Homo sapiens: one gene and its partner. The protein of the gene in region 1 purifies or fractionates together with the protein of each later gene. This does not show direct contact. Each region holds a gene or a part of one and is shown on either strand. Other genes may lie near its edges.

Evidence for each region. Proteins that work in one complex are often made in the same cells at the same time.
Region 2: the proteins of ARL14EP (region 1) and ATF7IP purify together in Homo sapiens (affinity purification with mass spectrometry; 3 studies listed by BioGRID and IntAct, with this or other methods). This does not show direct contact.

Annotation. Positions count from the first base shown.
Region 1 is NC_000011.10:30,318,656-30,326,111, reverse strand, and holds the start of ARL14EP (ARL14 effector protein), read right to left. Parts: upstream 3,009-7,456; 5' UTR 2,910-3,008; intron 1-2,909.
Region 2 is NC_000012.12:14,368,669-14,375,696, reverse strand, and holds part of ATF7IP (activating transcription factor 7-interacting protein 1), read right to left. Parts: intron 1-7,028. UniProt on the Homo sapiens protein: Recruiter that couples transcriptional factors to general transcription apparatus and thereby modulates transcription regulation and chromatin formation. Can both act as an activator or a repressor depending on the context.

The DNA.
Region 1 (7,456 bases):
TATTTGCCTTACAGGAAGTCTAACTCTAGGGAAGATTATTGAGGGAGAGGAGATTTAAATTCGATACACTAAGGACAGAGAAAAACATCTGCTTCAATAGAAAACTGCACTGTTGAGAGCACAGCCTTTCAGGTTTTCACATTCTGATTACATGGGAAGTCTGATTCTTTCAGCATCTTGGAGCTATTTTACAACTGTCAACTGTAGATAACCAACAGCAATGCAAAATAATTGTCTGTATTCTTGTAAATTCTATCTGCTGAAGGTTCAATGGACTTCCGTCTGACTGTGGAAGCAGCCAATTTTGCCCTCACTTGCACATTTATTTCAATATTCCTGCTCTATAAACATGTCTACTTTTAATTGTCATTTAAACTGGTTATAGCATCTTACCAGTTCCTATTTTAATAATCTTTTAACGCAAGAAAAGATTAATTTGCTCCAAACACTTTGGTCAATATAAAACCTAGTACTCTTCATGGAAGAAAAAAAATCCAGCTTCTTATAGGATAACAAGCAAACCAATAACAAAAACCCCAGTTTTAGAAAGATTCACCATGGTATAAATAAAATCCAGGTTTTCAATACTTTTCAATGTCAAATAATAAAAACACTTTTTGGCAAGTTGAATTTTGCTTGAGCCCTGTGCTGGCTCCTTATTAGCTATAATTTAAAAAATCCTCCCACCCTTGAGTTAGGTAAGACTCAAGGATCCCCCCTTGTTTACCTATGACCAGGCAAAAGAAAGACCCTCCAAATTCTCATTTTTTGCTTCAACTATGAATTTATGAATAATTTGCTGATCTGCTTGGCCCTACAGATCAAGTGGAACAAAATACTTGTTAATCAAACTTTAGTTTCTCTCCTTCCCCCAGGTTCCTGAGCTTTGGCCAACTCTCAGCCAGAGCCAAGGAATAACATTCTCAGATCTACTATTAGATCAAGCCACCCTTATATCCTACTTCCTCACACCAAAACTTTCTAGCACAGTTCACTCCTTGGAGATTCTTGCAGATCTTTTGGTTCTACCCATTGCAAAAGTCCCTTTTCTCCTTTTGTGATAACCCTTTTGAATAAAGTCTCTCCTAAGTCCAGATTTCTTATCTGACATTGTCTTTTAAAAATTCTGCATAGGAGAAAATTAAGACTTTCTGCTGCCTTAGGATTGACATCACTTTACTTTAGTGCCTAAATACAGCATGTTTTGTATTCTAAGATTAACATTTAATATTTTTGTAGCACTACCTAAGAATCAAAAGAGAATGAAATAAATGTAGAATACTTTGATTAGACCTCTCCTACTACCTTAGGCAGTAAACAAAAGTATTTGCTCCTCATACAATTTGAACGCTGCCAGCTCAGGGAATTATCCAGCTTTACTTTAAAACATCAGTAGTTTTAAAGAGTTCTTAAGCATTTTCTCTTGCTGCCCATTACCAAACGGTAAGGAAGGTAGATTAGGTTGAGGAAGCTGAGAAAACTCACACGCGGCCATGATGCTTGCAAGGTCTAGGACATTATCACAGGGGTTTCGGGGTGTTAATGCAGAACACCCCCCCCACCACTAACAAAACAGCAAAACAGCCACTAACAAAACAACAGCAGAGGGAATTGAGGATTAATTAGGGAACTCACTTTTTCTTCCTAAATTTGTAGGGGAGATGCAGAAATACCCGTTCCAATATGTTAATTTCCCTTAACATAGTTTTTTAGTTTGTTACCAGTCTCCTTATTAGTGGGAAAAGTAACATTTAGAGGAAATTTAACAAAACAAAAAATTTACTTCGTTTTTAGGTCAACTGATGTCTCTTTTATGAAAAACATAAAAAAAGTTTTCATGAAATGTTTTATGAAAAAAATTAAAGGCTTTTCTTGGCATAGGGTCTTACAACTTACACAGCGTCTTCCCAGATTATCTCTTATTTAATAAAAATATAATTTAATCTACCCCTACTCCCCAAATCAGGAGCTTTAGTTATGGGTACATACGCCTACAAAAGTCACGCATCCTGCAACTGTGAACTTTTTGTGCCTGTCATCTTCAAATACTGATTACCTATAACATGACAATTGGCCCAAAGGCAAAGAGGAGAGTCTCAATCCTCAGGAAGATCTAGGTACAATAAGAAAGGTAAAGGCAATTTAAAACAAAAATATAGTCCATAACACCATTGAAAAGATTTGGTTCAAGTGTGGTAGTCAGGACATGCCAGGTACAGTGCTTAGGGCAAACATCATTTCAGGAACCTTCATAGCCACCCTGAGGAAAGTACTATCATTCTCATTTACAGATGAAGAAACTCAAGCCTAGAGCTGTTGTTATCATGCCTAACAGAGTGCCCCCAAACCCTGCAATGATTCCCAACCCAACCCTGTAAGAGGCCACATACATTTCTTCCTTAGTTCACGGCTATTTACAAATGACTAAAACCACCAGATCCGTCCAGTGGGCACCTACTAAGTTCATGGTACCGGGATGGAAAAATAAACATTAGCCTTTGGCCTCAAACGGCCAGGGTTGAAAGGATTCTGATTTGAAAAATTAAAAACAAAAATAGCAGAGATAAAGGCTGTCTACGGAGTTCAAGGCCACAATAACCCTAAGTAGTTCACGTCAAAATCGTAGCTTTGAAGGTCCTGGGCCTACAGGACAGGCGACGACCCTCAGAGAGGTCAGAGGCGGCAGAACCTGTGCTGGGCTTTGACACAAGGCGTTGCGTCGCAGATGAACTACGCGGGGGTAGGGGTGAGAGGCCCCGGCCAGCAGCTGGAAATCCCCCTCACGTGTGCGGGCCTCCTCTTCCACCTCTCCCCGGGTTCCCCCGTTACGCCGCCGGGCTCCCTCGCCACCCAGGGGCCTGTCTCCACTCTCCCACTCCTCTCCAGGGCCTCCCCCGTTCCCCTTCCACCTTAGCTTGAGCTCTCCTCCGCCCGGCTTCGGGCAAGATGCGAGTCCACACAGGCCACACTCGACCGACCGCTTCCCAGCCAGTCCCCGCGCTACCACTGAGAGGACGGCAAGCGCGGGCTAGAGGAGCTCAACGCCACCACAAAGAGACGTCCGGGAGAAGCCTAGAGCGGACACGAGGCTGGCCGCCTCCGGGGACGGAAGGGGCGGGGCGGTGTGAAGTGGCAAATGATTCAAGGCGAGGCAAGAGGTGCTTCAGATGCTGTCTTTTGCAGTCCTCCGAGAGGTTAGGGATGTGGGAGGTCCCTGGGGGCCATCTCTTACAAGACACAGTTTCCACTAAATTGGATCGTATTTGTACATCTCTACACCTGTGCGTGATAGTAAACTTTTGCACCCAAATACCCCGACCCCTGAAGGAGAGTGTGAGTTAAAAGGATCTGAAGAACGGACCCTTTGTTTAAGGTCTCACATTCTATTTCTTTAATTCAAGCGAAATATATTCCAAAATGCATCTTTTATTGTAAGCTATAAAAATAGCTATTACTTCGAGTAAAATGTAGGCTCCAGGAAGATGCTTGTAAATTTTCTCAGAACAGAAATGGTATTTTTATTGTATCCTTATTGTCTGTCACAGTATAGGTGCTCATTAATTTTTAAAGTGGGTTTTATTATCTAGAATCCAGGAGAACTGAAAGTCTCTTAAAGATTCTTGGCCTTTTAATTATCTTAAGGTCGGGATAGCAGGGAAACAAAAACTTGTTTTAAACTCCCAGTGAAAAATGAGGAACAGGTAAATAAGACAAGCCCCACCAAGGCCCAAGCGTGCTAGTAATTCTCTGCATCTACTGTAAGCTGTTTTCTGCAGTGCGTCTATGGTCCTCCCACCACTTTCATACTGCTCGCCGACTAGGCAAGCGATTTGATGCCTAGAACTAGGGAATGACAGAAAGGAAAAAACAATGAATAGTTTCTTCAACTGTGTCTGCAGGAGGTTGCATTCTGTAATTCTTTTACTGTTTACTTTGTGGTTGGCACTTTGTTAAGCAATGATTAGACAAAAACAAAATTTATTTCTGCTTCCAAGGAGCTCACAGACTAGTGAGAGAGGAATAAACAGTTAATCACAGTGTGGTGTGAAAAGTGTCATAACAGAAACACATGGATATAAACAGGATAAAATGATAGGGGCTAAAGCAGGAGCGTTCTGGGAGGAGATTAATGCCTGCATGGAACTTAATTTGATGCAATTGTGACTTCCTAGTAAACTAGGCAAGCTATCCTAAAGGTAATGAAACAGAGAAGGCTCACAGATCAAATTAAGATTATTAAATAATATAGCCTATTCAATTTAAGTATCCAGTGAAAAGGTGAAAGAGTTGTGGTAAGTGGACACACTTAGGATAAGGTGCAAGCAAGTGGAAGGACGCCATCACCTGAATCATGGGTTAAGTAATGTTCATATATCCTATCTGCCACAACAGCCTTCTCCGCTGGTGGTATACTTACGAGGACCAGAGGTGAGGTGTCAGCAAGGAGGCCCACAGGTGGAAAGTGCTTTGGGCCAATGGTACACACCTGCTTTATTGGATAGACGCAGAGAAGTATGCCTGGTCACAGCCAGAGCTTACTCGGTAAGTTGTTGAACAGATACAGGTTTTATTTGCATTTCCTGGGCAGAGCACATATGAGACTATTCTAAGTGTGACCAATGGGTGGCTGATTTAGAGGTGACATAGTTAATAGCCCAGAGATGTCATGATTGCTCATTGCTTAGTTTTTCCATCCCTTTTTGGCTATCAGTGACTCTCTATTCCATCATATTTCTATTTAACTTTGGCATGTCTTATAGTTTACTAACTTACTCTATATATTTTACATAATCCTGCCTATGTTTCACAAAGTACATGCTTACTCATATTCTATATTTAAAATATGCTAGGAGTTTTGCATTTATCTCATAAGCTACTAGCTTAGTTACTGTCTATAGTTAACACTTCTTACGCCTTTCATCCATCCCTAAGGAAACTGCAAAGCCTTTCAGTATGGGTAGAGTGGAAAGCTGGAAAGGCGCATAGGTAACAAATAATGCCCTTTTTATGCCATATTAGAGATACTGAATTTTAACCTGTGAAAACTGTAAAACTATCAGGAGTGTAGAGAATAGAAGAGAGGTGCGGTCCTGGGCTAGAGGGCCAGGTGGAAACTCTTGCCCTAACGCAGATGATTAAGAAGAGGGCCTCCATCAAGTGAGGCAGTGGCTCTATGGGTTGAAATGTGATTCCCTCCCACTCACCTCCTCCCACTGGATTTGGTAATGTCTAGAAACATTGTGGCTGTACCAGCAAGGGGTGCTACTAGTATCTAGAGGGGTAAAGGACAGGGTAACTGCTAAACACTTAACAATGCACAGGACAACCTCCCTCCTCCAACAACAAAGAACTAACTGGCTCAAGATTTCAGTAGAGCCAAGATTGAGAAACCCTAAATGAAGGACATTTAAAAGGCATAGAGATGATAGAAGTTAAGTAAGAATTGGTCAGATTTTTTAACTGATTAGATATAGAGGTTAGGAAGTAGTAAATAATTATTTCAGGTTTCTAGCTTGGATAACTGGGAGGTCAAAAGGAGGAATGGGCTAGGGAGAACAGAGATAAGAATTTAAATACTGAATACGCTAAGTTTTCTCAAACTTATCAAATGTACCTCCAAGTGAAGATATACAGCTGGCAGCTGGAAGAAGAGGGCAGGATAAGAGAGGGATCTCAGCTGGAAGATAAGAGTTTTGGGAGATGTTAGTCTGTGAGTGGTAGTTCTATCTTTGGAGCTGGGTGGGATAGGGAAGATGATACCTATGGAATGTATAGGGTAAAATGAGAAAGAATAGGGCTAAAGATTATTCTAAATTTCTGAGCTCTCGTTCTATTTTACTGAATCAGAATCTCGGTCCTCCAAGCCAGTCTACCAGATCATAATATCTGCAGATAAGATCCAAGAATCTGCATTTTTGGCAAGCAACCCAGGTGATTTTGCAGCACACTACGATTTTAGAACAACAGATTTAGGTCTCAGAAAAGTCTGAGAAGGAGCAGACAGCGAGGTAGCAAGAAAACTAGGGAAGAACAGAGACCCACAAACCAAGAAAGGAAAGTTTAAAGCAGGGCTCTGTCGGTGCAAGAGGTTGTTATAGAGCAGTACTGGCCATTAGAAATACAATGTGAGTCACATAAGCCATTGTAAATTTTCTAGTAGTGATATAAAAAGGTAAACAGAAGCAGATGAAATTAATTTTAGAGATAGCGCTTGTTTAACCCAATAATTAAGACATTATCATTTTAACATGCAATTAACATAAAAACTAATGAGATATGTCACGTCCTTTAATTCATATTATGTCTTGGAAACCTGGTGTGTGTATTACACCTCCAGTGCCTCTCAATTTGGTCTAGCTACACTTCAAATATTCAGTAGCCGCATGTGCCTAGTGGCTACCAGAGTGGATAGCACAGGTGTAGAAAGTCAAGTAAGGAAATAACTCATTTTCCAGCTCAGACTGAAATGAACTAGAAGGAAAATAAAAAGAACTAAATATATTCCTTAGCTGTACTAATAAGATAGTTATAGATGGTGTAATAAGACCTGTTTCAGTGATATGGTGATGGTAGAAGTCAGAATATACCCAATTAAAGAGCGGGAAGTTAGAGATGCTAACAGCTACCTGAGAGAACATCTTCAACAAGCTTTACTGTCAAGTATAAAGAGGCACCCCTTTTTTGTGTCTTTGAATGTGAATTTTAAGATTAAAGAACACAATTCAGTTTTAATTTAGGTTTTAGCAATTACATTTGGATTTCTGCTTCTGCAGAATTACCCTATCACTAGAAATATCTGGAAAATTGAGCATAATATGTGAAATGAATTGGGCACGGTAGCTCACAAGTGTAGTCCCAGCTACTGGAGAAGCTGAGATGGGAGTATCACTTGAAAAAAATATATATTTTATATATTACATACATGTATTTACGCATATATATAATATAAAATATATGATATGTATATATCATTTTATATATATTTATATACTGAATATGTTATATATAATATATAAATATATAGATATATAAAATATATGCATATGATAAAATATAATATTTATATTTTATATACATATATAAAATATATATTATAAATATATAATATGTATAAGATATATAATATATACACACATATATACATTCATATAAATCATAAGTATGTATACTTATACATATTTAGGAAAGGGTTGTATATATACATATACACATATATGTATGTATCTATGAAATCATTGTTTTCAGACATTAGCCAACAGGCAGTGCAGTATCGTGATCCCTGAGAGAAGGGAAACGAATGAATTAAGTTCCATAATGACCCCAGCTTACTATCTGGAGGCAGTGTCCAGAGCCTAGAACAGGGAGGGGAACCCAAACAAAAACCGGTGATTTCACTAAATGGAGGCGACAGAGATGGAGGTGACAGAGATGGGAAGTTGGAGAGGCTGATGGGCAG
Region 2 (7,028 bases), on another chromosome or scaffold:
CCACATTTTAAAGATAAAGAACACTGAGAGGAGACACTAATTGCCCAGGTCCCAATACAAAACTACTGTTCTTTCCACTTCACTGTATAACTAACTGATTTTAGGAAAATTTTTTGTTTTTTCTTTTGTTCTTCTTTTCTTTCTTCATTTTTTTATTTATTTTTATCTTTCAATGTTTAAATCATTTAAAGTAAGTTTGGTGGGGGAAGAGGATTATACAAACCTAAAATACAAAATAATTATATCATTCCATCTTTTCCTCAAACCCTTATTAATTTACATACGTAGGTTCTTCACAGTCATATTTTAGAAACTTTTTATTAACAAGCAACTGGTTCTTAATGGATGACATTGAAAACTGTTTTTCCTAAAAGCAACTATTTATTATTTTTCATATGTAAAGTGCCTGTCAAATCTTCCCATGACAATTCATCATGTGGGTATTTGCCATCTGAGTAAATTACATGTTTGATTAAAAAAAAAAAGTTCTGACATCTGTGGATAATGAGTTAAATAAAAGAAAATAATTAGAATATCTTATTCCCTTTTTTTTTTCACCTCCACCTAAAACGAAGGAATTCTATTCTTTCAATAAGCAAGTATTTATTGAATATTAAGGGAGGCATGGTGGAAAGCAAGGCATGGTGGAAAGCAATCTTACACTTTTAATAGTGGTCTTATCATACCTTATTAGAAAGGATTTGTCTTAAAAAATTGTCAGATATATCAATAAGATATGATTCCTAACCCCAGGAAACTTATAAAGTACTACACAAAAAACAAATAACTATAAATATAAAAGTGGAAAGGAATAAATGCCTTTAAAAAATATATGAAGTAAAGCAAAGAAAAATTAGAGAATTTCCAGTTGAGAGCAACAACATGCTTTAATAGGCATACTATGTGGGTGCCATGGCAACTATGACTTTTATTCACAAAAACCAAGGATTTGTATCACAGAGCTATTAAGAGTTCTCCTAACACACTACCTTCCTTTCTGGCTCTAAGATTTTGAACATACTATTTATTCTCTTTACTAGTATTATCTGTCTAATTCATTCCTTAAAATACAACTCCCATAAAATCTCCTTGATCTCCTTCCAACACTCTCACCACTTTCTGTACCCTACAAAAATATATATTGTTTTACTTGTCATATTCTGTAGAAAGCTACTTTTAACTACTTACTTATTAATCAGGTAAGTTTTGCCTATATGCAGAGAATTTACAACCACAATCTTTTTACCTGTGTATATTACAAGGCCCTTGGAAGTCACATTTTCGGCCAGGCACAGTGGCTCACACCTGTAATCCCAACATTTTGGGAGGCCAAGAGGGGAGGATTGCTTGAGCCCAGGAGTTCAAGACCAGCCTGGGCAACAAGGCAAGACCCCCATCTCCACAAAAAAAAAAAAAAAAAAAAATTACAAAATTAGCTGGGTTTGGTGGCATGTGCCTGTAGTCCAAGCTACCTAGGAGGCTGAGTCAGGAGGATCCCTTGAGCCCAGGAGGTCAAGGTTACAGTGAGCCATGATCACACCACTGCACTCCAGCTGGAGTGACAGAGTGAGACCCTAGTCTCAATTAAAAAAAAAAAAAGTCATATTTTCCATCATGGAAAATGTATATTTTATACATACAGTTATAAACAGAGAAAAAAAAATCTGGATAAAATAATGCAAACATAAACTATTCAAACAATTGTCACTCGATTCATCTACAGTCCTTTTGAATTAAGCAAGTTAACCTGTAAAGTTCAAAAATACTACACTGAGTTTTAAAAATTTGAAATTCTAATTCTTGCAAAACTAATCATAATGTTTTCAACGGCAAGCAGAGAGGGGAAGAATTCTATCAAATATAAATATTTATAATAACTGGGACCCCAACCACAAATCATGAACACAAAACCCCCAAAATACCATTTCAATGGAAAATATACAGTTATACTATAACTGAACCTAAATCTTAAAAGAGAAATAGTTTTCAGTACCAAATTATGAAGTACTTTGAGACCACTTCTCCCAATTCCTTATATAGCAGAAAATGCTATTCATTAATATCCATTTCTCTTTTATAAAATTCTCTAGTTTTAGCTAAGCATATGATTATCCAGCTAGATATATTTCCCAGACTTCCTTTCCCAGCTAAATATGTCCCAATGACTAAATGATCACACATAAACCATGAGTCAAAGTGCTATGTGCCACTTCCATATCATGCTCTCAAAAGAAAGAATATGCACTCCCATTGTTCTTTCTTCCTTGCCTCTAGCTAGTAAAACTAGAGAGTAATCATGTTTCACCTAGTGATGGAAGCCATATGTTAAGGCAAAACCACTTACAAACTCTAAACAGTCTTACTTTGTATGGTTACATGAGAAAAAAACATGTGTCATCTTTAAACAACAGGAATGGAGTCTCCTATACTGTGGCAGCTTAGTTTTTACTCTAATGGAATTCACTTCTGACATTTACCACCTAAAAGGAAATAAAAGAGTTCAAAAGCAGTCTCTCTTTTCCCTTACATGCTTTTTCCTATGACATTCTATCTAATAAGAGTAACAGGGCAGATATACATCTAAGGCTCCAAAGCCTTAGCTGGGAATAAGCTGCAGCAGTCAAGTCATCCTTTATTGTTCCATCAAACTCTTTCTCCTGGTCCTCAAAACAGCAGATTCCCTTTCCATCTTTTTAGCTTTATCCTTCTACAAAATGGTAGGCATTATCACTGAGAATTACTGAACCAAAGAAAGTTCCTTTTACAGCTTTGACAGTTCTGAGGACAACTATTCTAACATACAAATCAAATTTCTTATTAGAATGTTAAATTATTAGAATGCCAAGAGTGATGGACACATAATTTCTAGGTATCAAACCAGATAATACTTCCCCAAAGTAGCATAGGGCTATACAAACAACAAAGAAAGGGAGAACGGATCATATATAGTAAGACATTATGGCATTACTACCTCACATCACCATCATACAAAGGGGTCCTCTCTCCCAAATACAGCTAGTTACTACCAGTTATTGGATATAAAAGAACACAAAATGTTTCTTATAATATTCTGAGCAATGGAAAACTGCAGACATGAATAAGTGCATATTTCTGATGGCAAAGTTAATAAGTCATCTTCATTTCCCAGATTCTCATATTCATATAGGTCCAACTATAAAGACTCTCAGGAAGGTATAACTGTTCCCTTAGGCCTATGGTATTTTTTTTTTTTTTTTGAAAAGTGGCTGAGGTACCTGAGTCATCCTCTTAAAGATTCTAAACTCCAAATGATCGAAATTTAAAATTGAAACATTCACACCATATAAACAAGCACTAGTAGCCCTGATCTACTTATTCTTAACTGAAAGTGCTCCCCAGCACTCACTCTCTGTCTCCAATACAAAATGGTTTCCACCATGCAAGCTGAATCATCTATAAAAAGTTTAATTTTCTTTGTTTTCAACAAATTAAAATGCCTGGAGGAGCCCCTGATTTACTCTGTGGATGGCAGGACAATCTGAGAAAGAACATGGCAAAGTAATGTTTAAATACTCTTGGCCTCTCTAATAAAATATAAGGTCAAACAAGCAAGAAGTTTAAAAGAGAGTTCCACTAAAGGATAGGCAATTTCTAAGTACTCTAGGAAAGTGACAAGGACTATGGTCTCTGAAGCTAATTAATGACATTAAGGTAATCTGTTTAAATAATGTTAAAACATCACCTAATTTTTCAATCAATAATATGCCCCACAACTGTTAGAAACTCAAAAGGCAGGAACTTTATTCTCAAGCTTCTTTATACATGTGACTCCCTTGAAAAACAAGGTATGCAGCCAATGCATAAATTTTCCATAGGCCTCAAAACCTAAAAGAAAAAATTATAATAGAAATCCTTCTAAACTAAATCACACGCTCATTTCCCTTCTGAAATAGGTTAAATATAACAATATTCTCTGATTCAGAATCATTAATAAAATCATCAATTAATAATGAACATTCTATAACTACTGATTCAGCTCTGGGAATACTGATTCCCAAACTAAATAGCCTCATAACTAAGTTTATAAATTATTGCTTCTAACAGTAGAAATATAACCCTCCTTTACTATCATGATGCTGGACATCATTTCTTTTCCCTACCAAAATGCATTTCTCAAGTAGCACTTCTAATTTTTTACTCCTCATCTGTTATAGTCTAGAAACCAAGTATAATAATAAACCAGAACTAGAAAAAGTTCTCAACTTTCACAAAAAAGTAAAATATCTAAGCTGTTATAAGCAGTGTTGCTTGAAAAAGACCCAAAGGCAGGGATTTTTCATTAAAAAAGATAAACTGCTTAAGAAAGGCCAATAATATCTTAATATTTTATATCCATTTTCTAGATTTATTTTCATAAAGCCAATAATATTTTATCATTTGAGTTCTATATTTCCGTGATTTCTTCTTTTCATTCCTCCACTAATTTACAAGTTTAGTTCAATAAAAATGTTATTTTGGCAATAAACTGACTCCTGAATCAATTATTTAAAAGATATAAAGTAGAATTACAGCTGAAATACATCCTTATTAATCAAGATAATCTTTTTCAATGCAATCAGCATAAAAAAGAGATTTAATGGAAAATAAATTTATTCTAATAATTAGGGAAACATCCTTATCAGAAAATATAATAATTTAATGATACCAAGGAAACTAAAATAAAAATTTTTTATCTTTATTATGAGATTAAGCCTCACCCTGGCCAGAAAAGGAGTAAGGTACCTTTTCAAATTCCTCCATCAAAAAAAAAAAAAATTGTCTGTGTTTAACAAAAAAGGATTTTGATTTCGAATATTGTACAATACTTTATTTTGCGACTTATTTTTCCCACGTCTAACTTCATACTGATACTACTTTTATGTCATCATGTCCTAAACCAGATTGAAAACAGAAATATAACCTTATATTGTCTCCTAATTCATCCCTACTAAAATTATAGCTGCACCAAGAAAACATCCTCCTGAAAAGTCACAGATACCACAAATTCTCCCAGAGTTCCTAGGAAATAGTGCTTTTTGGTAGTCTACAGGAAGTGTGTAATACCGATGAATTAAAAAAAATAGTATAAGGTTATAAATTCACCCAATGTAAATTTAATGGAATTGTAACCAAAACCATTAGCTGGCTTTTTTTTCTTAATTAACCAAATGAACCTAAAGTTGATCTGCAAAAACAGTCAAAATCAGCTATGAAAATTGTAAAATAGAATTGTGAGTGGGTATTGGATTTTATATAGGATATAGCACTACAAACACATATTTAAATTGTGTACCGTCCTACAGCAAATAAAACAATGCAATAATGCTCTAAGAATAAGGCCCAGATACAGTCATTGTCAACCTCTGTTTAAACTTTATATCATATATTCTTTTGAGAAGCTAATGAAAGCTATCACTTTTTCCCCAGAAAAATGCACATAGGAGGCCAGGCGCAGTGGCTCACACTTGTACTCCCAGCACTTTGGTAGGCCGAGGCAGACGGATCACCTGAGGTAGGAAGTTCGAGCCAGCCTGACCAATATGGAGAAACCTCGTCTCTACTAAAAATACAAAATTAGCCGGGCATAGTGGCACATTCCTGTAATCCCAGCTACTCAGGAGGCTGAGGCAGGAGAATCATTTGAACCTGGGAGGCGGAGGTTGCGGTGAGCTGAGATCGTGCCATTGCACTCCAGCCTGGGCAACAAGGGCGAAACTCCATCTCAAAAAAAAAAAAAAATGAACATATGCAGACTTACATAAAATTGTGTATATCAAGGGATCGGTGGAACCCCTAGAGGACAATGGACCCCAGGTTAAATATACCTAGTATATGAATCAGAATTGTTTGCTACCAAAGCAATAAGAAATGGATCAAGTCTATGGAAACTAGATATCTGGAAAAAAATGGAAACTAGCAACTTATCTTAACACACAATATGTCAAAACACAGATATGTCCACATAGATGTAAAAGTATTTTTTAAGTTTATTAAAACTTCCAGAAAAAGTTCTAGTAAAAAATTAACAAAACACATGAACAAGGCTGTGCACGGTGGTTCACACCTGTAATTCTAGCACTGTGGGGGCCAAGGCAGGCAGATCACCTCAGGTCAGGAGTTCAAGACGAGCCTGGCCAACACGGGGAAACCCCGTCTCTACTAAAAGCAGGGCATGGTGGTGCACGCCTGTAATCCGCTACTTGGGAGGCTCAGGTAGCAGAATCGCTGGAACCCAAGAAGAGGTTACAGTGAGCCAAAATCACACCACTGCACTCCAGCCTGTGAGACAGAGCTAGACTCCACCTCAAAAAACAATAATAATAAAATAAAATACAATATAAACATACAATTCACCTTACAACAGGTAATATTTTCTGGGCAGACAAGTGCTGTAGAAATCATAAAGGAAAAAGGAAAGGCAGTACAGGCTGGACATGGTGGCTCATGCTTGTAATCTCAGCACTTTGGGAGGCTGAAGTGGGAAACTCTCTTGACCCCTGGAGTTCAAGACCAGCCTGGGCAACATAATGAGGCTTTGTTTATTAAAAAAAAAAAAAAAAGAAAAAATTAGCGGGGTGTGATATCCTTCACCAGTAGTCTCAGTTACTCCAGTGGTGGGAGAATTGCTTGAGCCTGGGAGGTCGAGGCTGCAGTGGGCAGAGATCACTGCCACTGCACTTTAGCATGCGCAGCAGAGCAAGATCCTATCTCAAAAAAAAAAAGGGGGGCAGTACATTTTACTACATAAAAATGCAAAACTTCTTAACATATACAATCATAAACCACTTAAAAGGTAATTTTAAAATTACTGTGACAAATATTAAAAGCTAAGGACCCCAAAGCCGTAAGTAGCTGTTACCAACAAATAAGAAAAACAGTAACACTCATCATAGAAAAATACACAAAAAGTCAAACAGCTAATTCACAGAAAATGAAAAAAATGCATATATAAAACAATAACAAATTCAACTTCACTAGTTATCAAAAAAAGTTAATGAGCTACTATTTTT